Regions from separate parts of the Homo sapiens genome. Here all the other regions are linked to region 1. Evidence: fine-mapped expression QTL. A gene starts in region 1. Each other region holds a variant in brackets. All regions are shown on one strand. Distances are from middle to middle.

Region 1 (4,926 bases):
ATCTCCTCTGGGGTAAGGAGTTGGTGACATGCAGGTACCTGAGGCCCTGCCATGGGTGCATGGGCTGTGATTGTCCATAGACCACGTTAACTTAAACTTCTGGTCTAACACATAGAGTGGGCATCTTCCTAGGAAACCCTGGAAAAGCAGCAGATAGGACTGGCTCTCAGCAGTGACGAAAAGCAATAAGAGGACAAAATGTGGTACTTTACACAATGGAGTACTATTCAGCCATAAAAAAGAATAAGAACCTGTCATTTGCAACAACAGGGATGGAATTGGAGGTCATCATCTTAAGTGAAATAAACCAGGCACAGAAAGACAAACATCACATGTTCTCACTTATTTGTGGGATCCAAAAATCCAAACAATTGAACTCATGGAGATAGAGGGTAGAAGGATGGATACTAGAGGCTGGGAAGTGTTGCGGGGGTGAGGAGGACGGACATGGGGATGAATAAGACCTAGTGTTTGATAGTACAATAGGGTGAGTAGAGTCAACGATAATTTAATTGTACATTTAAAAATAGCTAAGAATATAATTGGATTGTTTGTAACACAAAGGACAAATGCTTGAGGAGATGGATACTCCATTTTCCATAGTGTGATTATGGTGCATTGCATGCCTGTATCAAAACATCTCATGTTCCCCATAAATATATACACCTACTGTGTACCCATAAAAATGTAAAAAAATGATTAAAAGTCTAGATATAATTTAAAAGAGGAAACTGTCTTTGTGTGGAGGCCAGCTGAAGACAGATACTGCATCAGGCACTTGGCAGCCTGGTTTCCAGTAGCTTCTCAACCCAGTGGAGTAGACTCTATGGCCCCATTTTGCAGATGAAGAATGGAGGTGCAGAGAAATCACAGCTCTAGCTTTGTCAGGAGGACCATAGAGGTCCAGGGGCTGGAGGTCTGAATATTTAATAGAGGGATTTGAATAACCATGGAAGTTAGCCTGGAGAGAGATTTAGGAGGCAGATAAGCCTAGTGTTCACTGTGGGGGCAGATGCCTTCCCCATCTGTGCAGACGATTGGCCCAAGTGGCCATGATGACATGGCTCCTACCTACTTCCTAATGGACCTCAGAGAATTAAACAGCGAGGACAACAGCGAGTGTTGTCTCTCAGACCCTTGGCTTTTTCAGGACTGCCTGACCTTTCTTTGTCCTTATTTGGCTTCAAGTCAAGTCAGCTCAACCCTGATTGAGCACCGGCAATGAGTCATGTCTGTGAAGGCGACACAGCCCCTGTCCTTGAGGAGCTTCGAGTCCAGTGACTGTCACTTCAGTGGAAGTTGGGCTGGACACAGTCACATGTGTATGCCAGACATGAGGCTTTGTTCTCATTACAATAATTGCCCTGCATTATTCTAGCAATTAAGCTTCTCCACGTGTGTGGATGCATGTTCCCAATTTTTTCTGGCCTCTACCGAACACAATGTTAATATTTGAGAGCAGTCCTAAAAAATTAAATAATTATACAAACTGAATTAGGATAGCATAATATTACCAATCAGAGTAATGTGGCTTTGTAATCCAGTGTGATGTCATATGAATCTACAAATTAGGAAGCATGTCAGAGGAGGAAACCACATCCTTTATTGCTTTGCCTTAAATAGCTTAAAACTAATCTTTTCCATGAGCCAACAGCTATCTCTCATGTTTAATAATGCTCCTCCCTGCCCAGATGAAGCTAACTAAATGATGTTGCCCCCTGCACCTGCAAATGCCTGGTGCCAGGGCAGGGACACAGGGAATGGCAGAAGGGGAGACCAGATGTTGGCTGAGGCATTGATTTATGGGCATGACCTTCCATGTGCCCCGAGGATGGCTGAGACCAGGGTTTGATGAATGCAGTGCTCTGTGTGAGAAGTTCTAAGGTGACAAGCAAAGATTCTATCCTCTGGAGGGGCAAGCCCTATTATTAGGTTGGTGCAAAAGTAATCGCAGTTTATGCAGTTGTAATGGCAAAAACAGAAATTACTTTTGCACCAACCTAATACCAGACAGAGGAGGTGCAAGTGCATGCCACCAGGGCAGGTGCAGGTGATGGGGGCAGAGAAAACTCAGATGTCTCCAATCTGTGCAGAGTAGGGAAACAGAAAAAGCTAAGTGAGGAAAGTGAGATTGCTATCACACAGATGCATGTCTTAGGTTTTCTGATTCCATTCCTCATGAATTTCATTAAGTAATCAAAGTGCTAAGCATGAAATGTGGGTATGCTGTCACCAGGTGGCAGCAGCATCCACTCTCCAAAATGCATTTTGTTCAAACCTAGTATGTGCTGGGTATTCTGAGCACATAGCAGAGACTAAGGCAAAGAGTCCCTGGCACTGTGGAGCTTAGAGGCTAATGAGGTGGCAGGTGCTTACACTTTAGAAACCGTTGTGAGGAATAGCTAGTGGTAGTTAAATGATACAGTGATAGTTAACAGAGAGGAAAGCTTTTCTCTCACTCCAAGCTATATTTTTATTATCACTATTAATATAAATAGAAAATAAATATTAAAATAGTTATTAAATAAGCAAAAGATAATGTTGCATTTAGTTATACGATTAAGTAGAGGTTTTCAAATATTTTTTAGCTTTGTGCAACCGAAATTATATGAGGAAGCAAAAACCACAAATACAGAAAATAAGAACTTTTCTGTTTGAACAGAAACGAGGACACTGGGGAGGCCCTTCCAATGCAGGCCAGACTTTTAGGGGCTCGACAGAACACAGCTGGAGAAACATCCACACCACACGCGGTTTCACCTGCCACACGGCAGCCCGGGTGCCCGGATCACTGTGTGTGGAGACTCAGGCTCACCGGCAAACCTCTTCCGGTTCCGGTCAGGGTGCTGCCTCCCTATCCACTGGGAGTCCTTTTGCGTTTCAGATGCTCCCAGGCTCTCCCGCAGTTTAAAGACTTAACTCAGCGGCTTTCAGGGCCTGTGGTTGAGGGACTCCGAAAGAACTGTTGCTGGTGGACCGGTTCAGGGTCTTGACTTCGCCACACAAAAGAACTTGAGAGCACGTCCAAAGTAAAGGTAAGCAAGGGAGTTGATCGCACAGCGAAAGCGCACTCTGCCAGCGGATCGGAGCGGCCGCTCAAAGGCGAGGCAGTGCTGGCCGACACTGGGGAAACCCCCTTTATGGGGGTCTTACATGATTATTCATGAAGGGCTGGGAAGGGGTGTTGCCGTGAAGCATGTTCTGGGCTGTCTCCTGGTGGCACATGTGCTGTGGTTGTGCATGCTAGTACACACATCGCATGTCTCGTTAGCATCGTAAATCTCCACCCAGTTCTTTAGTATTCTAATGAGCGCAGGTCAGCCCAAGGACACTCATCTTGGGTTTCTGCACTTGGATGAATTCGCGGATTTTTCCTTCGCTCTTTGACCTCCTCGCTAAAGGATGGTCTAACCACGAGCCTGGGATGCGGCTTGTGCACCGCAGGTGGCTTGTTCTCGCCATCTATTTAGCAAGTTTGCTCTCCTTTAAGTGAGGCTGTGACCACCCTCTCTGACCTACCTCAGAACCTGTTGCTTAGCTTCAGAAATCCAGCCTGGTGCTGGGCTGAGGTCAGCCTGAGGTCAAGCCATGCCCCTGAGACTTAACTGCCCTTGGATACCAATTTTCAGCAACAGAAAAGAATGAAAATAAAGTTCACATGAGGGCTAGTGCTGCTGGCAATGAGAAGGTCCTGTGACTACTTTTATTACCACTTCAACGATAAGGAGGTGACCTTTCATTCTCATTTCTCTCTCTCTAATATTTTGCATTCTCCAACTGTTATCTGTAAGAACATCTTAGCGCATTTGAAAAGCAGGGAAAATATGTAATAAAAACCACAACCAACCACACCATCTTAATGATAGCACTATTATTTTGTAATTCCTTCCAGTATCTTTGCCCAAGGTTTATTACTTGTTGAGTATTTGCAATTGTCCTCAGTAAAATTCTGAGACATGATTTTTAATTTAACATACCTTAAGATTTTTGTTTGCAGGTGGCTGAATTTCTTCAGAAAAATTATTTTAAGGGCTACTCAACACTGAGCAGTTAGTATTCATTCAGGTGGCCATTCTCTGATGCCTGTATTGCTTCCAGCTGTTGGGAAATGAACCCAGTGGAGAATATTGTTTTTCTTTTGCTAACAACAACATCCGTTAGGACAGATTTCCACATGTCTGATTGCTGGGCCGATGACACAAACATCGACAATAGCGCTTCACGCGTGTTGACTGATGATTTCCAAAAGCTTATCTTCCCAGTAGGCAGTTTGCCAGATGCTTCCAGAAATAGATGAGAATGCCAATTTCATCACACTGTTGCCAGCACTAGGTATGTCCACTACATTTTAATGCTAGTGTAATAGGCAAAGGGGACCTGCTGTCTGTTTCACCATTCATTTCTTTGCATGGTTGTCAGGTGGGACATTGCATTCTCCTGGAGAGGCCAGATCACTATGTCTCCCAGGAGGCCCTAGCAGAAGCTGCTCTGGTGTCCAGCTCCTGTGTGAAGCCTCCCTGGTCCCTGACTCTTGGAACAGACTTCTTTTCTGCCCTTTAAACACCCCTAACATCATGCGTGGTCCTTTGCTATGACACAGTTGTTCCCCATTCTGCATCGTCATGAGGCTGTCTACACCCTCTCTCTCTCCTGGGCAGGGCTCCGGCTCTGCAGGGGATGGGGACGTGTGTTACTCTGTTAGTCCCCTGCCTTGTCCAGCACAGCACTGTACATGCCACAGAGGCCCCACAGAGCTTGATCAAAAACTAACAATGATTAAACCAAAATTACGAATGGACAAAAAATTTCCATCAAGAAACCTCAACATTTTAATGTTCATGAGGGGGGAATGTAGGGTAAATGCACCTGATAGTAATAAGCATACCCTTAGAATGACCCTGTATGGCAGATGCGCCTAAATGTGTG
Region 2 (4,926 bases), 69 kb before region 1:
CTACAGATGTGTGCCACCAGGACCTGCTAATTTTTGTATTTTTGGTAGAGACGGCGTTTCACCATGTTGGCCAGGCTGGTCTCAAACTCCTAACCTCAGGTGATCCCCCCACCTCGGTCTCCCAAAGTGCTGGGATTACAGGTGTGAGCCACTGCGCCCAGCCAAAAAGGTTTATTTCTTGATCACATGACTCAGCCAGAGCAGGTGGGCATGGACCTCTGCTCTCCCCACTCCACCTAAAGAACCTTCTCCACCTCCTGGTCTCCTTACCTGGAATATGTGGCCTATGAGGTTTGCCAAAGAGGAGAAAATGGAGACACACTAGCTGTTATCAGCCTGGCAGCCACAGGCTCACTTCTGTTCTTGGCCCATTTGCCTGACCAGTCCTGTGGCTCCCACCACCTGCAGGAGAGTGGGGAACAGAGGAGGCAGGAAAGACACTAGGAAGAGTGGGGAGGGAGGAGAACTGCACAGCTGGAGAGGGTAGGAGGGATGCTGAGTGGGTGCTGCTGGGAGGAGGGTATGTACTACTGGGAGGAGGGACGCTGGGTGGGCACTGCCAGGAGGAGGGATGCTGGGTGGGCATTTCTGGGAGGAGGGGGGGAGGGGGAAGAGCCACACAGCCCGAGGTCCGTGGCAGGAGGAGATGACAAGCAGGGAGAACACCAACGGAATAAACTCTGCAGTTTCCTTCAGATCATCCCTGCATAGGTGTTTCTCGAAACTCATGTTCAGTGAGAACAGCAGGCATAGACTCAGGACAAACCCTCCATCTCCTTTCAGGTTAGGTTGGCCCATGGGCTGGAGCGTCTGCGTCTTGGTCGGCCCGGCAGTGTACATGTCAAGCAGCGCGCAAAGACTCCACAGCCATTCGTAGGCACTGCTGGCCTCATGCTCCAGACAGCCCTGGGACAATGGGCCACCAAGGGAAATCAATGATTGCGTGGGCGCAGGTGACCTCCAGCCTGCTTCAGGGCCACCCTTGTTCCCCATGCCAACTCCCTCCTTCCTATGGGCTCCCAAGAAATGGGTGGCAGAGACCAGCCTGGTGATTTACCTCCTGCCTTTCCGTGACTTCCTCCCAGTCCTGTGCATCTCATGTTTAATTATGAGGCTGTGGAAGGTGGTGATATTAATTATAGGGCTGAGGTTGTGTTACTTGGAGAAAGTCAGTGCACATGTCATTTGATTTTCCTCAAGAAGGAAAACTGTATTTTTTCCGATCTCAAAAATAATTCCAGGGAAATAAATGTGTACAATCACACTTTGGGGTTTAAAACTAACGAGTTTCAGTTTTAAAACATGTTAAAAACCTTTCTATTTGGAGAAAGCTGGAAGAATCCACTTTGGGGATCTGGCGGTTCTCAGGAGCTGTATTACCTCGGGATGGTCTCACTGGTTGGTAGCAGCTTTTGTATGAGGAGGGGCATGGGGTCCCGACTTAGGCAGAGAAGGCTTTGCTGAAGAGGTGCAAAGCCCAGCTTAGGGCTGGGTTTTCTACAGACCAGGAACAAAAGCATTGCTTGGCAAGATTTCTTCTCTGCTCAGAGAAAACACGCAGATTCCAAAGAGTGAGATGGAGAGAATTTGACATGTCTTGGTTTGAAAATAAGTCAAAAGAAGTCTAATATTAACAATAGCAATAATAATAACAACCATTAATTGTGCCTGCGTTAGGTACCAGGCCCTATTCTAAGTGTTGTGAGTGCCCTCTGTCATTTAATCTCCACGGAGTCCTGAAGGTGCTTCCCAGGTTTGTCCCCATCACACAGATGAGGCAATCGTTCTGTTAAGACTGTCCTTGGGTCATTATGTCAGCAATGAAATCGGTGCTGCCATTACTAAACCCTTACTGTGTGCTGGCATTTGTGTATGCATGCATGTGTGTGTGTGCACACGTGTGTGTTTGCGTGTACATGTGCATGTGTGTGTTGTGTGCCTGTGTGTGCACATGTAGAAAGAAAGTGATGTGTGGGAATGGAGAATTCCAACCCAGGAGGAGACTGTGCCTGGGGCTGCCATGAGAAGTGGTGACACTTCGAGAAACGGGTTCCAAATGCACGTTGCCTTCCAGTTCTCTGTGTGACCTTGGGCAAGTCACTTCAGCTCCCTGAGCTTTGTTTTTAAAAATATTTTTTAAATGTATAAAACCATGGACCATTACATATGAAGAGAAATGTGTGTGCAAACATTCAGTTAATAATCACAAGGTGGAGGAGTGCCTGCTCAGACCCAGAGCTGACACAGGGAACTCTCCCAGAAGGCTGCAGGGCTTCCCTCCCAACCCTCCAACGGCCCAGTTGCTGAGCCCGTGCTTATCTGTTCAGTGGAAATGCCATGTGCCACGTTCCTCAGAAGTAAAGCCAC[T/G]AGGTAAGTGTGACACTCTGTGCCCAGCTTGGTGCAAAGCCTCTTGTGTGTGCTATCTTATTGACCTCCCAAATAGCATGGTAAGGTCAGTACTGTCACTTCCCCCACTTTGAAGATGAGGAGAGCACAAATTCTAGATGGAAATGGAGGTCACGCAGTGGAAATAGGATCCAGACAGATTAATCCAATCTCAAGCCTGAATTCTTCCATTCCACGCTACGCTTGAAGCTCAATCTCTCTTCCTGGTTGATTCTCCCCACTTCCCCACCCCCAGATATATCCCATCGCTGCTTGGTGGACAGTAGCCATGACTGGGTTTTGGTAAAGGTTGCTGAATAATCAGGCTGCTGGTTAGTTTTTACATTTCACCTTTCCCAGTGAAATGGGGCCCCATGAAAAAGGCAGCTCAAGTTGTAAATTACTCAAAGGAAGGACAGAAAGGTCTTCTGTTTGCACCTACCCTAAGGATTTGGGGTAGACACTGGGAATTTACTAATTATGAATTCCAGTGCTTTCCTTGCTGAAAGAGAGGCGTGGAATCAACGCTGAGTGAAGGCATCAAGTTTAAGCTGCTAATTACTTCCTGATCATGCAGAATAAAAGCTACGTCCCTTGAAATACACCAGGCAGCTAAACATAATCTTTGCGTTTCCGTAGTGTTGGTTAAGGAATCCAGATGTTACTGCAATAACCACTCCATAAACAAAAGGAACACCCAGCTGTGAGAACTGGCTTCTCAGCATTCGTCCCAGCAGAGGCTCTTCTGGGGCCAGCCCTGGAAGAACCCATCAGGGTTCTGATGGTTGCCCTGTTTCAGCACAGCCCTTATTGGCAGGCAGACGGCTACGGGCACAGCCACAGGCTGAAGGTGAGTCCAGCACACAACTTTCTGACAGTGAACAGGAGTAAACATGGGACCCACCCGAAACCTTTGTCTGTTGACTTCTTAGCAAATGGAGGCAGCTCTAGGCTCTGGAGAGTTCGGGTATAGGAGACCATGACTTGAGCAGACTGATATAAGTGGAATGCAAACATATTTAGATGGCACAACTTAATTTAGATTTATCAGTGCTAATATAGAAAAAGCTAGTATTTATTGGGGCTTATTAGATTTTTAGTCTGAATCCTCACAACTTACGAGGGGGTTCGTTTTACAGACTATGATCTTGCATGATTTCCCCAAAGATGCTCATTAAGTATATGGTGAAAGTAGAATTTGAATACAGAAGACCTGGTTCTGCTACTTTCTGTGTTTCTATTTGGTTCAAACCAGCCTTTCTTCTTTCAAAACAACTTCAGTGCAATTCATGGTTTTGGAAAATAAACTTGATTTTGAGATTCAGACAATAAGTGCATTTTTAATGTTTATTCTTTTATCTTGAAAAACTGATATATTTATGAAATGATATGTGCTCACTCAGTGTCAACACTTCAAACAACACAGACAGTACAATGACAAATTGGAGATCAGCTCTAATCTCGGCCCCCAATTTAATGCATTGCTGAATATTCTTCTGAACATAGTCCATCCCACACTGTCCCATGACACAAGACGCTCCAAGGGGCTGAAGATAGAGGGACTTCTGCAGTCAAGAGAGCTGGGAAACTCTTGGACAGTCACAATGTGCATTTGGGTATTAAAGGCTCTGCAAAGTTCTGCACCAAATAAACCCTTGGATTGGCTTGATCCAATGCCATGTTTCCAAAACCTACTTGCCCGTGGGACACCTTAGTCCATAACACAGGTTGGCATTTCTTCTAGAGAGTGTGCTGTGAAAAACACTGGTCTCACAGCACCGTGCATTCATCCAGCAGGTATTTACCAAGCAGGGACTTTGGGCCAGGTCCGTGCTAGGCTCTGCAGGTGGACCAGCCAGCCCTGACCTCCATGGTGTCTCTTCTCATGGGAGAGGCTGCACAGCAGTCATTGAGAAAACGAAGAAACACACAGGTACTTTCAGATGCTGATAATGACTACCATGTGCTAAAAGAGCTCCAGGTGTTGTCTGTTTTGAGACAATCTTCTCGACAATGAGATAGAATGAACCATGCAAACTTTGGGGGCTACGATGGTTTTAGGAAAGAGCTAGAGTGAAAAATCCTTTGACATATATACATACAAATAAAGATACATGTGTATAATTTTATGTAATTGACATCACATTATATGCTGGCACCTGCCTTTTTTGCTTAATGAAAATGTCAAAGGTAATATTACCAATCAATCAATATATTTCACCATCGTGTTTAATTTCTGCAGAGCACTTATTCAAGCACATACTGCATTTTTCTTAGTCACTCACTGGTGGGAATAGAAAGTTTTCTCAGGCATGCATTTTTCCCACTTCTGAAATGATCTCCTTAGAATAAATTCCCCAAATTGTATTGCTGGGTTCAAAGGCATGAACATTTTACATTTTTATACAATAATGTCAAACTACCTTCCGGAAATGATGCTCACTTTACTTTCCCTCCAAGACTGTGTGAAAATGCCCATTTTCCTAAATGCTTACTATGACTGGTTTCCAACTACATTTTAATTCTTGTTCAATCTGATAG
Region 3 (4,926 bases), 50 kb before region 1:
AGAAGACTTTACCTCTTGGTTGGTGTTTCCCTACTTCCACTCCCAATATGGATGGCAGCCAAGCTTTCATTTTGCAGGTCTAAGCCTCTGTGTCTAGAAAACGGAGGTTTTAGTGACTTGTCTTTTGCAAAAGTAAGAATTGGCAGACACCATGGCAGTGGGCGTCCTCTCTTGCTGAGGACAGGAATGGGGCTAGGCTGCAGCATGCCTGATGAGAAGCTGCTGTGGGTGGTTGGGCAGTTAGGCACTATTTCCCATGGCCTGGAGAGCAGCTGAGAGGGTCCTGTGGGTCACTCTGTACTAGAATGGACTGCAGCTAGGGGCGCCCTGAGCCCTTTCCCTGGAGCTGAGTGACAGCTTGAGCTCAGGGGACCAGCATGTAGAGTAGAAGACTTGGGCTGAGGTCCCGCCCTCGTGGCCCCATCTCTGTGGGGTGTCCACTACGTGTGAGTCCAGGCCCTTAAAGATACCATGGGGTCGGGGGAGTAATAATGAATGCAGTTGAATTTGCTGTCTCTTGGATAGTGGCGGTTATTTGCAGATGAACTTTGGCTTAAAGAAAATAAAGAATGTGGCATGTCTTTCTTCCTAATGTTGTGAATAGGAATTCATTCCAGCTATGCTTGTTGGCACACCTCAAGCACGGTCCAGGGCTCAGGAACATATCGGTCTTATGCAGCTCTTGGATGCTTACCACAAAAGGAGGGCTGGTTGTGGGTGAGAGCCATGGCAGAGTCTGGGGCATGGCAGGTGCATTGCTGCAGGATGAGCCTTTGCGAAGGGCTAGGCTTGCTGCTTTGGGGCAGCTCCCAGGATGGCCACCAGCAGAAAAAGCTCCAGGCCTGGTTCCATGTTCTTTCTCCGGTCCCCACCTTTCCTTCCTCCACAGCACATTTTAAAGTCTGATTTCAGGGGCTTGGGAACGTCCCTCTGCCAGATCCACCTGCATGCTTGCGTCTTGGGATCTGACCACAGTCTTCAACCTTCTGAGGGAGTAGTTACCACCTTTTTAGGTCAGGGAGTGGGTGATGGTGAGAAGGGAGCAAACAAGCCTCTTGGGAGAGAGTGCAGGGAAGTGCACTGATGTTTTGGAGTACCTTCCATTACCATCATTGTGCTTAACGTGTTCGTTACGAAGCAGCCTGGTGATGCTTGCTTCTCCTCCTATGGGTGACTCCTCCTCTGTCCAACAGGGGAGCCTCACGGTGGGTGCCTTTGCTCAAAGAGGACCCATCCTCAGGGAGTTTGCAGCCAGCCGAAGGGCAGCCAGGAGTGAAGAGTGAATGGAAGGTGAGGCGGGAGAGGAAAATCCACCTAAGCTGAACGTGGCTTCAATAATTAATAGCAGCGGGCAAAGCCGACATTACATTAGGAAAATTTAATTAGAACATGCAACTTATATATGTAATTGGATGCCTGGGGCAGTAATAATGCATTTTCACAGTACCTCAACCATCCCCCCAGGCTTGTTTTGACTCATAAAAAGGGATCAGTCATGAAGAGCTGTGATGCTGGAGTGTTATTTCTGTTGTCCTGGTGGTCACTTACGTAACCTAGTGTGTAGCCTGGGGCAGGCTGTAGCACCTAGTAGGTAGGTCCTCAGTTGATATTTGTTGACTGATTTAATGGGATTTTATGATGAGATTGAATAAATGAGGGCACACCTGGTTTTTAGGACTTCCCTGGATGGCTCCATGCTTCCTCCTGGACCAAGTGTGTTCAGATGAGAATGGCCCTTCCTTGCTGTGGGCACCCTCTTTGCTAGGGTGCCAAGGTCGGAGCTGATATTGGTTATCTCATCGGGCCTTGCAGCAGCGCCGCAGATATTCTGCCTCCCATTTTGCCCGCGGGGACGCCGAGGCCCGGCGCCGCATCCTGCCGCCCGTTTTGCCCGCGGGGAAGCCGAGGCCCGATGCCGTACCCTGCCGCCCGTTTTGCCCGCGGGGAAGCCGAGGCCCGGCGCCGCATCCTGCCGCCCGTTTTGCCCGCGGGGAAGCCGAGGCCCGGCGCCGTATCCTGCCGCCCGTTTTACCCGCGAGGAAGCCGAGGCCCGGCGCCGTATCGTGCCGCCCGTTTTGCCCGCGGGGAAGCCGAGGCCCGGCGCCGTATCCTGTGGCCGTTTTACCCGCGGGAAAGTCGAGGCCCGGCGCCGTATCCTGCCGCCCGTTTTACCCGCGAGGAAGCCGAGGCCCGGCGCCGTATCCTGCCGCCCGTTTTACCCGCGGAGACGCCGAGGCCCGATGCCGTATCCTGCCGCCCGTTTTACCCGCGGGAAAGCCGAGGCCCGGTGCTGTATTCTGCCGCCCATTTTACCCGCGGGGAAGCTGAGGCCCAGTGCTGTTTAATATCTTACTCATGTTCACTTGATGAGAAAGTGACAGATCTGAGACAAACCCAGGTATGAGGCTGCA[G/C]AGCCCTGCTCTGAACCGCTGAGTCTGTCTCTTTTCTTGGGACAGGGACAGCTTCCTGTGGTGACAGCCTTGCTCTTGGCTGCAGGGATTAAGGGAGGAATAAAGCTCGGGGCTACAGCCAGCCCATCCGGGATGGGGAGCTACCACAGGGCAGCAGGTTTAGCTCTCACTGCTTTTCTGACCTGAGTATGCCTAGAGAGGGGAGCTCAGAGCCATGGAGGAGCAAGGAGAGCCTTGGGTCCTACAGCGGCTACCAGACCTCTGCGTGCAGTTCTCGCCCTGGGCAAGCCCTCTGTGTGGGTGGGTGGGTGGGTGGGTGCTGCCAGGACAGGCCTCTGGGAAGACGTGGAACACTGACGGAAGGAGGGAGGAGGGCAGAAGCCAGGGTGTTTGCTCCTCTCTCCCGTGGCCTGGGATGGGGGTCTCGTGCACTGATGTGTTTCCCTCACCACTCCCGTGGCACAGCCCCTCCCCCTTTCTTCCCCGCTCCAGCCAGCACACCCCTGACTTGACTCCACCTTCAGCAGGATGGCCTTGGCGTCTGTGTCCTGGCAATGTCACCCTCCTCTCATTTCTTCTTTAGTTCTAGAGGTTATGACACCAGCCATGGAAGAGCAGAGAGGCCAATGAGGTGGGGAGGTTGGAAACAAAAGGCCTTCTCCACCCCAGCTTGACCAACCCAAAAGCTGGAAGGCAAGGAAGACCTAGGTGGGTTCTGTTTCCCTGAATAGACCTTGACTCATGGACCCTCCATATGGCCAGAAGGTGACCCAGGCCTGTTAATCAAAGGCCCGCACTGCCCTCTTTGCAGCCACTGATTCAGGGTAGGGCATGTGGGTTAATGAAGCCAATCATGAGCAATGGGACTGAGCTCTGAGTGTTTTGAGTGTTTTGGTTGAATTGAGTAGGGGCTGCCTCTCTCTGTCCACTTCCATGTTGTGACATGGTGACAAGGAGCTGAGGCAGAGCAGCGTCCCTGCAATGCTACCAGAACAAGGCTGGTTCTGAAGGCAGAGCTCCTCTCCCTAACTTTGCTGATATGCAAGCAAATAACTTCCTTTTTAAACAGAAGCCAGTAGCCAGTTTGCATGGGATTTTATCACCTGTAACAGAAGAGTCTTTTTTTTTTTTTTTTTTTTTTTTTTTGATGGAGTCTTGCTCTGTAGCCCAGGCTGGAGTGCAGTGGTGCAATTTCAGCTCACTGCAACCTCCGCCTTTCAGGTCCTGATTCGAGCAATTCTCCTGCCTCAGACTCCTGAGTAGCTGGGATTACAGGCACACGCCACCATGCCCAGCTAATTTTTGTATTTTTAGTAGAGACGGGGTTTCACCATGTTGGCCAGACTGGTCTTGAGCTCCTGACCTTGTGATCCGCCCACCTCAGCCTCCCAAAGTGCTGGGATTACAGGCCTGAGCCGCTGTAGCAGCAGAAGAGTCTTAACAGATATTGTTCACTTCCTCACAGTAGGAGTCACCCAGGCAATGGGATGATGTGGGAAGGGCATGCGATGCTCTCAGGTGAAACTGGTCCTGTGCCCACATCTCGCGTTAATTTGTTAACTGACCTTGAGCAATCCACTTCCTTCTGTGGACCTCATCTCCCACCCTCTCCTGTAAAACGAGAGGGGGGCTCTCCTTCCTTCCCCAGTCAGCAGCCCTACAATCTACAATGGCAGGAACGTGTGAGTGCTCCTGCTGCCACCCCCGCTCAGCTTCGATGGTGCCCCGTTGTCCACCACACAGCTCTTCTTAGATGCCCTTTTTAAAATGAAATGCTTGCACTTAGCCACACGTATCTTACAAGGAACAAATTCATTGATGGTTGCATTTCTTAGGGACTGGACAACAGTGTGTCATAGGCCTGGAATCTGAGGAAAGGGGGAGAAATGCAAAAAGGTGCAAAAAAGGTGCAAAAAGGGCCACTAGACTTGACCAGCCTCACCGTTTTCACAGAAACTAGACTGAACAAAAAGAAAGTGCTCACTGGCCTGATAGAAGACACGCACTGTTATCATCAATAAGAATGGACTTATGTATTGCTAATGTTTACTATGCAATTAACAATTTCCGTTGACTGTGTGAAGCATCTTAAGTGCATTTTAAATTTGCTCCTCCCAAAAGGGTACATGGGCACTGTCTTTATCCTCAAGTCACAGATGAGAAAATGGAGCCCCAGTCAGGTATTAATTAATTACTCAAGGTCACAAAGAGAGAAGCCAGGTGCCCCAGCAAATCGACCCTGAAGGCAGAGTCCCTGCCCTTCATCCTCCTCCTCTTCTTGGGGATTTTCACTGACTTGGAAACATTCTCCTCTGCTCCTGAGGATGGCCTGAGTTTATCAGAATGGGTGTATATTGGCAATTCTCCTAACATTTGCTGAATCTTCATCAAAGATGCCAATACTGTCTGTCAAGCCTGCAGTTCCAGTGTGGCCCCTCTGCCACCGCGCATTCTCCTCGGTTCACTTTCAATTGCCTTTTAATGGGAGAGAGATAAAGTGAAATTACAGCCTTGG
Region 4 (4,926 bases), 150 kb after region 1:
GATTTGCATTTCTCCGATGGCCAGTGATGATGAGCATTTTTTCATGTGTCTTTTGGCTGCAAATTATGGACTTTAAAAAGGGGTTATTTATTAAAAAAGGTAGGAAGGAACCAGTAAATAGGGGAGAGAGATGTGAAGAACATTATGTGTATGAAGATGTGTTTTTGGTAGGAAAGGTTGTAGAGACAATAACTTTGTATGAGAAAGGATCTTGTATGGTAAATGCTTGTCCTAAAGTAAAATGCCTGGTTGTTTAAAACAAGGGATGTTTAGGACAAGTCAGAGAGTCCAAGCATGTCATAGATGGTCTGTGTAAGTCATGAAGAGGACTTGTGTAGGAAAAGTAGAATATACATTTGATAAAAGTCATGAGAATGTGGATTTTTGCCTAAGTTTTGTTAAAGGATTGTTTTAAGTGAGATAGGAAAAATCTAGAGGCTTGAACAAGTTGTGTAAGGTTTATTAAAAATTAATTATAAAAGAGATTCTGTGTGTGAACATATTGGCTAAAGTTAAAAAGGAAAACTGGTAATTATACTTCACCCATATGCTAGCTTGCAAAGGATACAAGTTTTTGCTAGTACTAGTAGACACCTTTATTATTTATTGGCTGGGTTGAAACTTACCTTACCGGAACAGAGAAGGCTAATGAAGTTATAAAGATTCTCTTAAAGGAAATAATCCCTCAGTATGGGGTACCCTAAAGCTGCCAAAGTGATAACAGCCTGTCTTTTGTCTCCTAGAAAGCTCAAGGGGTTGCTAAGGCTCTCGGAATCAAATACCATTTACATTCATCATGGAGACCTCAATCCTCCAGAAAAGTGGAAAGAGCTAATCAAACTCTAAAACAGGTTTTAGCTAAGCTATGTCAGGAAACATCACAAACTTGGGTCAGCTTATCTGCCCATAGCCCTCTTAAGGATCCATAGTTCCCCTAGAGCAAAAATTAATATGAACCTACATGAAATGTTATATGGAAGGCCATATTAAACTAATGATTTATTACTGATCCAGAAATGGCCAGGCTAATAAAATACTTAGTTAGCCTAGGACAATTTCAGCAGGCTATACAAAAGTTTGGAACTCAAAGACTGCCGACACCAGGAACTAACCAGCAACCCAAAATCAGGCCAGGAGATAATGTACTTGTTGAAACATGGAAGGAGGGATCACCTGCTCAAAAATTGCAAACCAAATGGAAGGGACCATTTTCAGTGGGACTGGTCATGCCTTCTGTGGTCAAAGTAATAGGATTAGATGGTTGGATACATCTTTCCAGGGTCAAGCCTGAGACACCTGAAGCCCTGGACTTGGAATCTGAAGCTGTCATCAGCCAGTACACCTATGAACCTGTGGAAGACCTGAAGTACCTGTTTAAAAGACAGCCAAAAGATAAGTAAATACTTCCCAAATTTCCTTGGTGTCTTTGTTGCATAGTTGCTGTAGGCTGGATAATAGTAGCCATTGTTATATTTTTACAATTAATTTCTTTCCTCCAAACAGATAGAATCACTTCCTTTCTAATAATTAAGCAAAGTAAAATGTTGTAATCCATTTTTGTAACAATCATTCCTGACAGGATAGGTATCCATCACCACCCCTACCCCAAAGTTCCCATTCTATAGAACAAAATAACAAATATGTATTTTTTGTGTTCCATAATAGTCACCCATAGCCTGTGTATACTGGGACCAGGCATATGGGAATCAACTTTATTTTACAACAGCTTCTCTTTAGCTCTCCATCAGTTAATGGATTCTGGGTATTTATTAAGAACTTTACATTTAATGGAAAGAATGTTAAATACCACCAGCCCCACTCTGGCAGAGGACTGTTGGCTTTGTTTATCTCCATCATCATCCCAATACTTTGCCATCTCAATCCCAGCCCAATCTTGGGCCTTTGAGAAAATAACCTATCATTCCTAACTATAAGGGTGGAACTCCCTTCAAATTAATGAGCCTGGATGACTTATATGACTTCAAAATTATGTAAATGACAAGGGTTAGAATGACAGTATGAGTAGTAAACCTCCTCCAGTCCCATCAGAACAAACTTTCTGGGGTTAC[G/A]TCCCATTAGAAACCCATTTGGTGGCCAATATCAATGTACACAGAACTAAAATTCCAGGTGCCACTTTATATTAAGAGAAGCCACAATTTTTGTCAGGCCCTGGAAACCTTGAAAAGTCATCGACACAACTGCACCCTGGAAATTAATCCCTCACATAATCATGTAAGCTATGCAGTTACCCAATCAGCATTATTTAGAAAACCTGTATGGTTTTCATGGAAATCATTCTGAGTTAAGGACACTTTAAAGGATATACAGTCTAAGTACTGTCAAGGTAGGCCCACTAGCTGTGTTCACATTTTCCATTGGGAAGACTGTACTGATCCTCAGATATCTGGTTGCCTTTTGATTTGCCGGTATGAAAATAGCTTTGGGTGATTGTTGGAGGACACTAAGTGTAACTAACTCCATTCGGAAAACAGAACTGCTGGGGCAACTCGGGATACTTCCCAAGGTCCTTTCCAGCCTTTAACTGGGGCCATCTTAGCAGGGACCTTAACTACTTGGAAAAACAAAAATGGCAAGCTAACCCACATGTTCATCATAGAAAACAATTTTTGTCTTGAACAACAAGGAGCTTTTTTTCCTGCGTGGAACTGGTTCCTACTTATGTTTACCAGCCAACTGGACTGGAACCTGTACACTTGTTTATTTAGCCCTGGCAATTAATATAGCTCCCAATAACCAATTCCTCATTTTACCTTTGACTGCAACTGCCAGGCACAGATTAACCAGTCAACTCATACCCTTTTGGTAGGGCTAGGCGTAACAGCTGGAATAGGAACAGAGGTTAGCGGGCTTGCAACTTCCCTATCCTATTATCAATGCTTGTCCAAGGATTTTATGAAAAGCTTGGATGGCATTGCCTAAAGTATCGTCACCTTACAAAATCAGATAGACTTCTTGGCAGCAGTCACTTTATAAAATAGGAGGGGACTGGATCTCCCTAATGCTAAAAAAGGTGGCTTATGTCTTTTTCCTAGAAGAAGAATGCTGCTTTTATGTCAACCAATCAGGATTTGTAAGGAATGCTACCCAGAAAAATTAGCTGACTGGGCCTCTGATATATGACAACAGCTGTCCAAGTCATGGCACTCCTGATCAAAAATGCTAAGTTTGGGGTTCATGACTCCTTCCTCTAGCTGGCCCTTCATTAATGATGATACTTCCCTTGGTTTTCGGATGTTGTTTGTTAAATCTCTTAACCAAATTCATTTCCTCTTGCCTGGAGACCATCAAGCTGCAGATAATGATGCAGCAAGGCTTCCAGGTAAAGACACCACCCCTGGACATCAAGAAGCTAGCCTCTCTCCACTAGACAGAGCAGGGCAGGATTTCTGTGATCCCCAATAGGTAGGGACTGCACCCAATTCAGGATGAAGCAGTTACAGAAGAAAGACCGTCAGTCTCTCTGCCTGCCGTGAAGACTTTATGGGGATCACATCTCTCATGGGGGAGAAATGAGGCAGGAAAATAGGTACTGGGGGCAGGGAACCTAAGGCCAATTCACATTGACTTCCTAGAACTAAATCAAAAGGAAAAACCCAACTTTCCACATAACAAAAGAATAGAAGCTACTCCCTTTGCAATCCCCACCCCCTTTCTGCATGGCAGATGAGAAATGGAAAGTACCTCTGATGGCTTCCCTCTCACAACCAATCAGAGTGGACACGAGCCTAGTTTTCATTTGCATAGGGGTGTAACTTTGTAACTTTACTTCAGCCTCTGATTGGTCCCCTCCCACAACCAGTCAGATGTTTGCGTAGGGTATAACTTTCTAAGTTCACTTCAGCCTCCGATTGGTCACCTTCTGAAACCAATCAGACTGGTCACAGGCCACTCCTTCATTTACATAGAATGTAAACCAAGTAACCAATGGGACACCTCTAGAAGGTATTTAAACCCCAGAAAATTTTGTAACCTGTGATCTTGAGCCACTTGGTCGAGACTGCTCCCACTTTGTGGAATGTACTTTCATTTCAATAAATCTGTGGTTTTGTTGCTTCATTCTTTTATTGCTTTGTTTGTGCATTTTGTCCAATACTTTGTTCAAAATGCCAATGACTTGGAAAACTCGTAGTCAAGACCCTCCACTGTTAACGGGAGGAGGATTAGAGGGAGGGAGAGGAAAGGAGGAGGAGGTTAAGGAGGAGGAGGAGGTATGGACAGAGGGAGAGAAGGAGGAAGAAAGCTGAGAGACAGAGAGTGAAGAAGTGGAGGTGGAAGGAGGGAGGAAGGAGGAGAGAGAAGAATAAAGGAAAGAGTGAATGAGTCACTGTTTCTGGGTTGTGGGACTGGCTGTGGTTGTAGCTTGCCTGTCTCCCTGTCTCTGGCCCCTTAGGCCAACCACGGGATTCCTGGCCCCAGGATATTTGCAGCACTGGTGTTTGGAACTTCTTACTGAAGTCCATTCCAGAAGTTCTCCCTCTGACCCCACTCTCTGCTTCTGTGGCCCCCAGTCGGGTCCTGCTTCTGGCCTGGGATTTCACATTTAGATCTTTTGTCCAGTGACTAAACCTCAGCATGGCCCAGCAACTGGGGGCCTGGTATCTCTCTAGGTGCAGTGCCCATCGCGGCTGCTCCTGTTCTGGGGATTAGGCGGCCACTGACCTGTCCCCACTGGGGCCACCTTTCGGGGTCTTTGCAGCAGCACTGTGCTCTCAGGTTTCTGGAAGAGGGTATTTCGGCAGAGATAACAGAATCGGCCAGCAGTACCTACCCATGTTTTCCATCCAATAAGCCATCACCTTCCAATTACCATAATGCCTGTAAGTGTAACAAAAGGCTCATTCTGGTGACAAATGTGGCCCTGCACTCTATGTCCCTTGAAGGATAAAAAGGTGTCTCAAATTCTAG
Region 5 (4,926 bases), 83 kb before region 1:
CAAAAAGGGGCTGGCAGGCTGGGTCCTAGTTCTTCTTTGCCATGGCTCCAGCATGGACTTATACCCTGGATTGGTTGTCTCATTTCAAAGCAGGGAAAGATCTCTGAGAGCTTTGCCCAGCTCCCTGGATGCTCTGCTCCAGGTGATCTTGGCACCCTCTTCTGGGTCTGGCACCCACACACTGGCACACCTTCCATGACCCTGAGGCTCATGCAGCCTCCAGACTCACCTACCAGTTCTCTTCCTGGGATTCTCAGCTTTCTAGCATACCCTCTTCCAGAGGTGGGAGACCTCCAGTTAAAAACAAAATTGTACACAACCGCAGCCTCATTTCCATTGTTTAAGAAATTAATTATCTTGGTGTATCTTTTCCAATAACAGCTTTCATTAAATTAAACCCAAGGCATTTATATTCCCTGGGAATAACAGGCTGCTTATATATGGCGGGAATGTGCTGGAATTTCTTTAGAAATCAGCACATTGGCTATTGAGGACTAGCTGGTGATCACAGGTATAGGTTTTGAAGTTAGATTGTCAGGATTAAAATCCAGGCTCTGCCATTGCTGGCTGTGTGGTCTTGAGCAAGTTACATTACCTCTCTGTGTCTCGGCTTGCCCATCTGTGCAATTTGGACAGTAAGAGTTCCTATCTCCCAGGCTTGTGGTAAGGATTAAACACGTTCATGTAATGATCAACAAGGTTAACTATGAACATGCTCACAAAGACACACATGGGCTCTTCTGGCGCAATAGGGACGTGGCCTGGAAGCTCACTGCCACGTGGCATTTGGGACCACAAGGGATCAGACCTCATCGTCTGTGCACAGATAGACAAGATCATAAAGAGGAAAAATTAGCATCGGGAAACTGGTTATTTATTTAAGATTGAAAGCGGGAGAAATCTGCCCTGGACATCTTCCCCTCTCCTCTGTTTGTTTTGTCTGCCAAACAGAGGCAGTACCCCCTCTCCACTCTATTTATTAATTGAGTAAACTCCGTGATCCTAAATGCAAACAAACATGGGGCCAGCACAAACAAGCACGTGCTTCCTGTACGCGCCACTTCTGAGTAGCAGCCCGAGCAACAGGTGGACTGGCTGGGAGACAGAAACGGCTGCAGAAGGCGCCTCCAGGATTTGGCGTGAGAGCCCTGCAAGGTCAGCCCATGTGCTCCTTCTTTGTTAGATTGTTTGTTCATTCATTTGTTTATTCATTCCTTTATTCAAGTGTTTAGTGAGAACTTCCATGTGGAAGACAAAGACCTAGCTCACAAGGGGTGCATGGTCTAGGGAGCTAGGTGTGGACAAAGAGCCACGTAGGATGTCAGTGCTGAGATGTGGCAGCCACGGGGAGCTATGGAAGGGGGCAGAAAGAAGACCCCAGAGCTCAGGGAAGGCCTGCAGGGCAAGTAGGGAGTTGTCAGCCCAGCAAAGAGCCAAGAGTGTGAGGAGAAGGTCTGCCAGCGCCTGAAGGGGAGAAGCCATGGTTCACCAGCTTCAAGAGTTGATACAGTTGAAAGCATCATCTCTCCATGGCCAACATCCTGGGCTGTGGCTTTAATTTGGGCATAGTGTGTGCCTGCAAAACCTCGGCTGTATTCAACCTAGTCTGCCATTGATGGAGTGAGAACTGCCCCCAAATTATTTACATTCAAATTTGGAAGCAACTGAAACCCAACAGTAGGAGATTCATTACAGTAATTCCATGGAAATGGAATAATACGCTGTCGTTAAAAGTGTTCAAATCTTTTATGGTTATGATAAATCTAATAATAAAATCGAGACAATATTAGAATATATATTTTAACATTTTCCTAGTTTTGTGAAAAAAGCCCCAAATATCTGTATGAGCCTAGATAAATGACAAGAAAGGAAAACAGTAAGATTTTTATAATGGTTATTGCTCAATGGTTGGATTTTTAAAAATACTCTTCTATAATTTCTAAATTTTATGCCCTGAGGATGTATTACCTCCATAGTCAGAAAAATTATGAAAGGTATTTAAAACCCAAACTGGCTTTGGGCATGCAGAATGCTTGGTTATTTCTGAAGTATAAAAATAACTCCCCCTCTGTCCCATCAGCACGCGTGTTGCAGGGAGTCTGACGTTGCTCGCTAAGTCTCTTTGGTCGTTTCATACTAATGCCCTTTGCTCCCCTGATTATCTCTCTGAGGTTGGGGCCGGGGGATGGGGGTGTGCTAGGCCTCCTGGATGTCTGTCTGCTGCCAAAACATCCTCTCCTGTCTCTGTCTCATTGGTGCATTTTGATGAACCTGTATTGCCTGGTCACTGCGC[G/A]CTAACCACCAAATTATGAAACATTTGTGCTGCAAGGGAGCTGAGAGATCCTTAAACTCAATGAACCATTAGGCATAAGACACACACACACACATACACACGTGAATACACACAAACACACAAACAGCTTGGCTGCTCTGGGTGAAGCATGTGTGTGTTTGGGGGAAATTTCCTTCCCCACCCGTGGTCGTCCATTTGCCCATGAGCAGCTTCCGAGGCAGGTCCGTGGACCCCAACGCTGTGTAACACCGTGTGAAAAACACAAAGGCTTGCAGCCCTCTCACTGCAGACGTGGGAACACGACTCTGTTTAAAACCCTTCAAAGCCCGCCTTCTTGCCGTGTGATGCTGCCTGGGCCAGCAGGGCAGGTCACCACGCTGTCTCTTCAAAGCAGCTCGCTCATGCCCACAGCGCTGGGCACAAGGGCAGCCACGAGCTGTTTGATTTCTGCGTCCCCAGCAGATGGCTTGGTGCACAGGGGCAGGGCTCGTCTGTCCCTCTCACTGCTGCGTCCCAGGCTATGTCTCCACCATGTAACTTCAGACAAGTTCCTCAGCGTCTCTGTGTCCTGGTTCCCTCATTTGTAACATCAGGATATTGATAAGGATCATAGTAATAGGGATGTCCTTATGGGGCCTCATGAAAATGAAGAGTTCTCTGTGATGTGCCTGGAACCACAGAGGGCAGCAAGTGGGAGCCACAGAAAGTCATCTCTTTATCATAGTTGTCATTGGTAACTATGACGGTTATCAAGGGCAGGGGTCTCCCACCTTCTGCATCCAGGCCTTGTCATTCCTTATAAAATTTTCTCCTTTCAAGGACTTTCAATGCCCTGAAAACGGAATGCTCCTCCCTGCTCCCCATCAGCTGCTGCAGAGCCCTGAACCCCTTGAACTTGCCTTGCTTAGTTCTTTCAGGGGCTGCCTTGGATGCCACCTCACTTCCCTCTTCTTGGCTCTGTGGCTGTCAGAGGGGCTGGGCACTGGGTTACTTCATCAGTTCCTGGGTGTTGATCGGCAGGAAACAGTGGTTTCCTGTTCATATCCTGCCTGAGCCTGGGCCGGGTGGAGGTGTCCTGCATGGAGTCTTGTGAAATCGCGTGGACTGCAACACCCAGCAGCGCGGTGAGTCCACCCTGAAATCCACAGTGACCCACGCGGCATGTGCTGGGAATTGAACGCTTGGGGAAAGAGCTGGGCTCCAGCGGATCAGCCCCGACCAAGTCGTTCCCACAGCTCAGGACCGGACGCTACAAGCCCACTTTGTAGCAGTTTGGCGGACGGCAAACTTTTGCAACACAGTGCAAAAACCATTTAACACCTTTAAGGGAATTGGAAATGGGTTTTTCATGTGTGGTGGTGCTGAAAATTGAGAATAATGACAGAATTATTAAAAACAGCCTTCTCGGCCTTAGACTCTTAATTGCCTCTGGTCTGTAAAACTGACAAATAAGCACTGTAGAAGCCACAGATGAAATATGTCGTCTTGGGAGCCCTGGAGAATTGTCTCTGAATTCTTTTGTTTATGGATTGTAGAAACTGCTTTGGGGGTAGTTGGATGTAGAAGCAGAAGGACAGAGTGGGGAGCTGGGAGCAGGAGGCCTGGGTTTGTCTCCTGAGTCTGTTTCCACTGGGGCCTGAGGCTCCCGTGTGAGGGAACATGAATGGGCCAGGCACATGGGCCCTGTGGGGTGACAGAGCTGTGGGCTCCATGGTGGCTCTGTGGGCAGCTAGCTTGGGGATGGCTGAGATAAAGACAAGTAGTTTTCCTTCCTGCAGGACTTCTCAGAGCCTTTAGTGTGGTTATAATGATAGAAAACAGTATTAAGTCCATACCCTGAACCAGAAACAATGCTAAAAGCTTTGCACTTGGCCTTTTTTTTTCTTTTTCTTTTATCAACATGTGTGAGGACGGAAGCTTAGGCTTACAGATATGGACTCATTGAGAGTGAGTGGACGTGTCTGATCTTTAACCCAGTTCTGTCTGACCAAAAAGCCTGTGCTCTAACCACTGTGCACCCCTGCCTGTCTGTCCTGTTGAGAGAACTGTAGGGAAAGCCTTGAGATTATGTATCCAGTGCTCCCCTCCTCCTGATTGGAAGATGGCAGCTCAGAAGGTTAGGGTGCCTTCTCCTGTCCTCCGAGTGGTTAGATGCACGTGTCCTCTTCTGTCCTCTGCTCTTCCCACATCCCTCTCTCTCTGGTGCTCTGGTGGAGCCCCTGGGATCAGGGGTCACAGGAGCACCTGGGCCATTTGCATGGTTGTTGGTAAAGGGTGTTCCCCCACCCCCCATTAAGGTGCCTGCCATCAAAGTGCCTTATTGCTTGAGTTCCAATCTCGGCTTCACAACTCTGTAGCTGTGTGACTTTGCACAATGTACTGAGCCTCTCTGTGCCTGAACATCCTTGTTTGTAGATAGTAAAGATAATTGTCCCTTACTCCTAGGTTTCACATTGAGTGTTTAGCAAGTTAACGTTTGTAACGTGTGAAGTCATAAGATGCAGGACTGGATGACTGCCCTACCCACAAGAGGCCTAGGATCTTCCCAAGTTGCACTACTTATGGGACAGGTCTGCCAAGCAGCCCTTGTGAAGATAAAGGTGGTGATGAGTTCCTCCCACAAAACAAGAGCC
Region 6 (4,926 bases), 180 kb after region 1:
CATTGGCCTTGCTCTTCTTTTTGGAACATGATAACCTCCCGCCAGCCGCCCCAGCACAGTCTCAGGACGTTTGCATGTGTCGTGGCCCCTGCACACTGTTTCCTCAGCTCCTGGCCTGCTTGTTCCCTTCCCATTACCCTTGTCTCTGCTTAAGCATCAGCTCCTCAGAGGTCCTCCTGACCAGCCCATTGCAAGTACCCTTTCCCCTTCCTCCTTGCGGTTCTGTTGCTCCCTCCACCTTGCAGCTCTGCAGCTTCCCGTGAATGTGATTGTTTACATGCTGACTATCATGTCCCCCACCTGGCTGTTCACCCCTTGACACCAGCACCAGCTTTCTTTCTGGCTGCGTTGCTGCCTGTGCCTGCAGTGGTGGCTCCGTAAGCATCTGCTGAACAAACGCATGGATGAATGAGCCCTTTCAGATCCAGGCTGTGTGGGGCTCAAAATTAAAGAAAACAACATACAAAATGACACATATAAAATTAGGAATGGGGTTTATTTAAATTCTTAAAAGCTGCTAAATTTCTGTACGTCACAAAACTATACAGTATTGAATATTTTAATAGTTACCTGATTGTATTGTACGTTTTCCTACATTTTTCTCTTGCATACATTTTGCCTTTTCATATGACAAAAATGTTTGGTATTGCTTTTAACAGGACAGAAAGATAATTCCTCTAGTGTGGTCAGATAAAGCTTTTTTTTAAAGTTATGGATAGTTGGTGGCATGCAACGTGCAGATGGTCACACAGACAGACTCATGTGGCATTGGGTAAGGTTTTGTCCTATAGACACAAGAATTTTGATGTATTCTTTTTCTTTCTTTTTTTGAGACAGTCTTGCTCTGTCACCCAGCCTGGAGTGCAGTGGAGCAATATCAGCTCACTGCAACCTCTACCTCCAGGGTTCAAGTGATTCTTGTGCCTCAGCCACCCAAGTAGCTGAGTAGCTGGGATTACAGGTGTACACACAACACCCAGCTAATTTTTGCATTTTTAGTAGTGGCAGGATTTCACCACGTTGGCCAGGCTGGTCTCAAAATCCTGGCCTCAAGTGATCCACCCACCTCGGCCTCCCAAAGTGCTGGGATTACAGGCATGAGCCACTGCACCCGTCCTTAGATTCTTTTTCATCCCATAAAAAAAAAAGATTCATTTACATTTGTGTATATGCATTACAAATTATTCCTTACAAGGGAGAACATTTATTTTGACTAGGTAATAATGAGAACTGAATCCTCTCCTGATAATAGCGTGTCTGATGATAAGAAGATTTTTCTTAGACTGGCTTCTGGCTCCATACATTTCAAACCTTGCTCCTTTTCCTCTTCCACCAGACCCTCTGGTGCTGGGCACCAATGAGAAGCTCATCTGGCCCCGGGATCCTGGCAGGACACTGGGAGCACTATTTCCATGGGCAGCAGGGTTGTTCCTGGAGACATCACTGACCCAGGACACCTAGCACAATGGCACTCGATGTGAAAGTGGCTTCGTACAAATCTGCCACTCAAGCCTAAATAAGTGCATTCCAGAAGAGCCGCAGCCCCTCTAACAGCTCCTGAGGTGAGGGAAACCCTAGGGATGGGAAGTTGGAGCAGAAAGAGATGGTGGCCTGAAGTCAACTGCAGTGAAAATCTCTCCCCATCAGCAAGTTTTGCAAAGCTATGGCCACAGGGACACATGACTGGGGCCCCTCCTAGTCTTGGAAGGAGCCCCCATGGAAATGAGGGCCTCACAGTGAATCCACCTCTGATCCTACTTCACCTGCAGTCAAATGAGAAGAGATTTCAATCAGCTAAAGACACCCTATCCCCTCTCCCCGACCCCTGCGACCCCAGGAGCTCCTGCCTTGTCACTGTGTCCCCAAACGAACCGCATCTGAATCAAGCCCCTTTCTCTCCCTAGTGGTCAACATCTGGGCTGTGATGGGCAGCTCCCACTCTTGCCTTAGAATATGACTGGAGAGGTGACTTCTCATCACATGGAGAATATGTTCACCCCATGGTGCTTTCCACCCAAGCTGACCATGGCTTGACTTTTTGGTGTAGTTGCTAGCTCTGTGCCATCCTTGGCAATGTGACCCTGGAGCAGCTGTCCCCAGTGTGCATTTGGGGGATTTCATGTAATTATGAATAGGATGCAAATTTTATAGCCCCAGTGAAGGGAAACACCCCTGGCGAGGCTTCCCGGGGCCAGAGAGAGGACTCCACTGAGGGAGATGGTGGCAGGGCCATTCTTTGTGTCCTGCTTTTTTTTTTTTTTTTTTTTTTAACATCCTCTTTATGTCCTGAGAGCCATGTGCAGATGAGGAAAAATGACATGCAATGCATTTTTGCCTGCCACAATGACTTTGCAATCATA[A/G]CAAGCAAAATGTTCTAAACAGTAAGTGAATCGAGGAAGATATACTGCCAAGTCAGGAAGAAAAAATCCACCTGTTCAGTGATTTCAGGAACTGCTGAAGAAAATCACCAGTGAGTATCAGTTTCTGCAAGAGAATCTAATGCAGGCTTTGCTTCTCATCGGAATCCCCCAGCTGGTGTCTTGGTTGACTGAGAGTCTGGGGGAGAGGGCAGAGAATGGATTTATTCTCTGCTAGGTTTTTAACAGTCAAGAAGGGCTGTGGTCCTAAGGGGCACTGGTCAAACCTTAGTGTGCATCAGAATTATCTGGATAAGGCTAGGCACAGTGGCTCACGCCTGTAATCACAGCACTTTGGGAGGCTGAGGCGCGTGGATCACCTGAGGTCAGAAGTTCAAGACCAGCCTGGCTCTTTTAGTAGAGAAACCCTATGTCTATTAAAAAGTACAAAATTTAGCCAGGTGTGGTGGTGAGTGCCTGTAATCCCAGCTACTTGGGAGGCTGAGGCAGGACAGTCACTTGAATCTAGGAGGCAGAGGTTGCAGTGAACTGAGATCGTGCCATTGTGCTCCAGCCTGGGCAACAAGAGTGAAACTCTATCTCAAAAAAAAAAAAAAAAAATACCTGGAGAGCCTGTGAACATGCATAGTGCTGGACCCCATGCCAAAGATACTGATTCAGCCTGTCTGGGGTGGGCCAGAGATTCTGCATTCTGTCTAAGGAGCTCCCAGGTGAGGCACATTTGCAGACCACAGTCTGGAGGTTTGAGGACTTGGAAGACCATGGCTGACATATCTTGAGTCTCTGCCTTGGTATCCTTTGCCAAGCAGAGAAATGCACTGTTTATGTTTTTCAGGAGCTCAGGAAGCAGAATGCAACCCATGCAGATGTAGGGGCTGGATTCTCTCTATGACTGAGTGGGAGTCTCAGCCCCAAGAAATGCCCCGGGTTGGCCCTGAAATCCACAATGGCTTGCTGGGCTGGAGGCCACCAGCTGATGGGACCCAAGAGAGGAATGAATTATTTATCTGGACTCCTCACAGAGAACAATGCCCTGCAAATGTCCCCCGCACCATGCTGGGTGGAATTCATAGTCAACCTAACAACCAGCTTAGCATCTTCTCTCCCGGACCTTGCCCCTCCAACCGTATCGAACTTTGAGGAGCAATTAGGGAATTGCTTGACATCTTCCCTGCGAGCTCTTGGGTCACAAAAGCTAATTAACCTTCCTCTTGCCTTCCAAACTAAGTAACAACCTCCAGAGCCAAGTCTTCTGGAACAAAACAGGAAGGAAGAAAGAAACTAAGAAAGAAGCACTGTCTCTGATTTTTTTTTTTTAATGAAGGTTAACATATAATTTTTAAAATGAACTCCATGGAAAGGAGGTTGTGGGGTTCACAACCCCTGGGAGCAGTTCCAGCAGTGCCAGGACGGTCTCAGTGGCAGCCCTCTGCTCATCTTTGAGGTCTACTTTGCCCAGCAGCTAACTCTTGTAGGTGGAAACATGGTGGCTTCTTGTTCTCTGGGAAGTTCTGGATGGGAACTTGATGTGGGAAGTTGTGAGGTGCCCTGAACTTGGAGGTGGGGCTCATTGGCACCACAGTGATGGTCCCATCTGTGCCATGTAGACTTGACCAAGCAACTCAAGGTGTCCTTAATGTCCCAGACTGAGAGAGAATTTGCCGGCCTCCACCTTGGAATATTGTTGACTTTCAGTGCACGACGCAAGTCCTCTCCTTCAACACTCCTCTCTAAGAAGATACACAGTCAAACACTTAAGGACTTGGGCTTGCGGAGGGTGTAGATCTGGGCTCAGATTCCCATTCTGACACTTACTGGCTACGTGACCTACACTGTGATTCCCAAATGCCTGCATATCCACATACCACTGTGTCCCACTGCACTAGCTACCCGGAGCTGCCATAACACATTGCCACTAACTAGGTGGCTTAAAACCAGAGGAATTCATTCTCTTATAGTTCTGGGGGTCAGAAAACTTTTTTTTATTTGTTTGAGATGGAGATTCGCTCTTGTTGTCCAGGCTGGAGTGCAACGGCATGATCTCGGCTCACCGCAACCTCTGCCTCCTGGGTTCAAGCAATTCTCTTGCCTCAGCCTCCCGAGTAGCTGGGATTACAGGCATGTGCCACCACGCCCAGCTAATTTTGTATTTTTAGCAGAGACAGGTTTCTCCATTTTGGTCAGGCTGGTCTCAAACTCCCGACCTCAGGTGATCTGCCCCCCCTTGGCCTCCCTAAGTGCTGGGATTACAGGCGTAAGCCACCACACCTGGCCCTGGGGGTCATATATCTTAAATCAAGGTATCAACAGGACCAAGCTCCCCAAAAGCTCCAGGAAAGGATACTTCTTGGCCTCTCTTCTGGCTTCTGGTGGCTGCAGCAATCCTTGGGGTTCCTTGGCTTATGGATGCATCACTCCGTACTCTGCTTCCGTCCTCACTTGACCTTCTCACCTACCTTCCTTTACGTCATCTTCCTTCTGAGATGCTCTGTGTCCAAATTTTATTCTTTGTAAAAGGATGCCAGTCATTGGATCAGAGACCACCTTA

Alleles and levels. Positions count from the first base shown, and alleles are read on the strand shown. Sizes are in standard deviations (SD) of each study's normalised expression. Not every link is listed here.
For the expression in testis of the gene that starts at base 2,883 in region 1, G is the low allele of the variant in region 3 and C is the other (small effect, 0.24 SD a copy in GTEx).

The links. PIP is the estimated chance that this variant, and not a neighbour inherited with it, causes the effect.
Region 2: its variant is fine-mapped to the expression of MIR646HG in whole blood (INTERVAL, PIP 0.98).
Region 3: its variant is fine-mapped to the expression of MIR646HG in testis (GTEx, PIP above 0.99).
Region 4: its variant is fine-mapped to the expression of MIR646HG in whole blood (TOPMed, PIP above 0.99).
Region 5: its variant is fine-mapped to the expression of MIR646HG in whole blood (INTERVAL, PIP above 0.99).
Region 6: its variant is fine-mapped to the expression of MIR646HG in whole blood (TOPMed, PIP above 0.99).

Annotation. Positions count from the first base shown.
Region 1 is chr20:60,135,610-60,140,535 of GRCh38, forward strand. MIR646HG (MIR646 host gene) reads left to right here and starts at 2,883. Exons shown (of 5, transcript NR_046099.1): 1 at 2,883-3,035.
Region 2 is chr20:60,066,809-60,071,734 of GRCh38, forward strand. It overlaps LINC02910 (long intergenic non-protein coding RNA 2910), which reads left to right. Exons shown (of 4, transcript NR_161293.1): 3 at 3,025-3,235; 4 at 4,180-4,926. Among named protein-coding and RNA genes, the nearest start is that of LINC02910, 13 kb to the left of the region's middle. The variant T/G (reference allele first, on the strand shown) is at 2,368.
Region 3 is chr20:60,085,603-60,090,528 of GRCh38, forward strand. It overlaps LOC729296 (a long non-coding RNA gene), which reads left to right and starts at 2,084. Exons shown (of 5, transcript NR_109918.1): 1 at 2,084-2,398; 2 at 2,995-3,119. The variant G/C (reference allele first, on the strand shown) is at 2,412.
Region 4 is chr20:60,283,198-60,288,123 of GRCh38, forward strand. The region is part of intron 3 of MIR646HG (MIR646 host gene); the gene reads left to right. LOC105372698 (a long non-coding RNA gene) reads left to right here. Exons shown (of 2, transcript NR_171673.1): 2 at 1,280-4,077. Among named protein-coding and RNA genes, the nearest start is that of MIR646, 23 kb to the right of the region's middle. The variant G/A (reference allele first, on the strand shown) is at 2,070.
Region 5 is chr20:60,052,592-60,057,517 of GRCh38, forward strand. LINC02910 (long intergenic non-protein coding RNA 2910) reads left to right here and starts at 3,334. Exons shown (of 4, transcript NR_161293.1): 1 at 3,334-3,417. The variant G/A (reference allele first, on the strand shown) is at 2,294.
Region 6 is chr20:60,319,297-60,324,222 of GRCh38, forward strand. MIR646HG (MIR646 host gene) reads left to right here. Exons shown (of 5, transcript NR_046099.1): 5 at 1,337-2,960. Among named protein-coding and RNA genes, the nearest start is that of MIR646, 13 kb to the left of the region's middle. The variant A/G (reference allele first, on the strand shown) is at 2,361.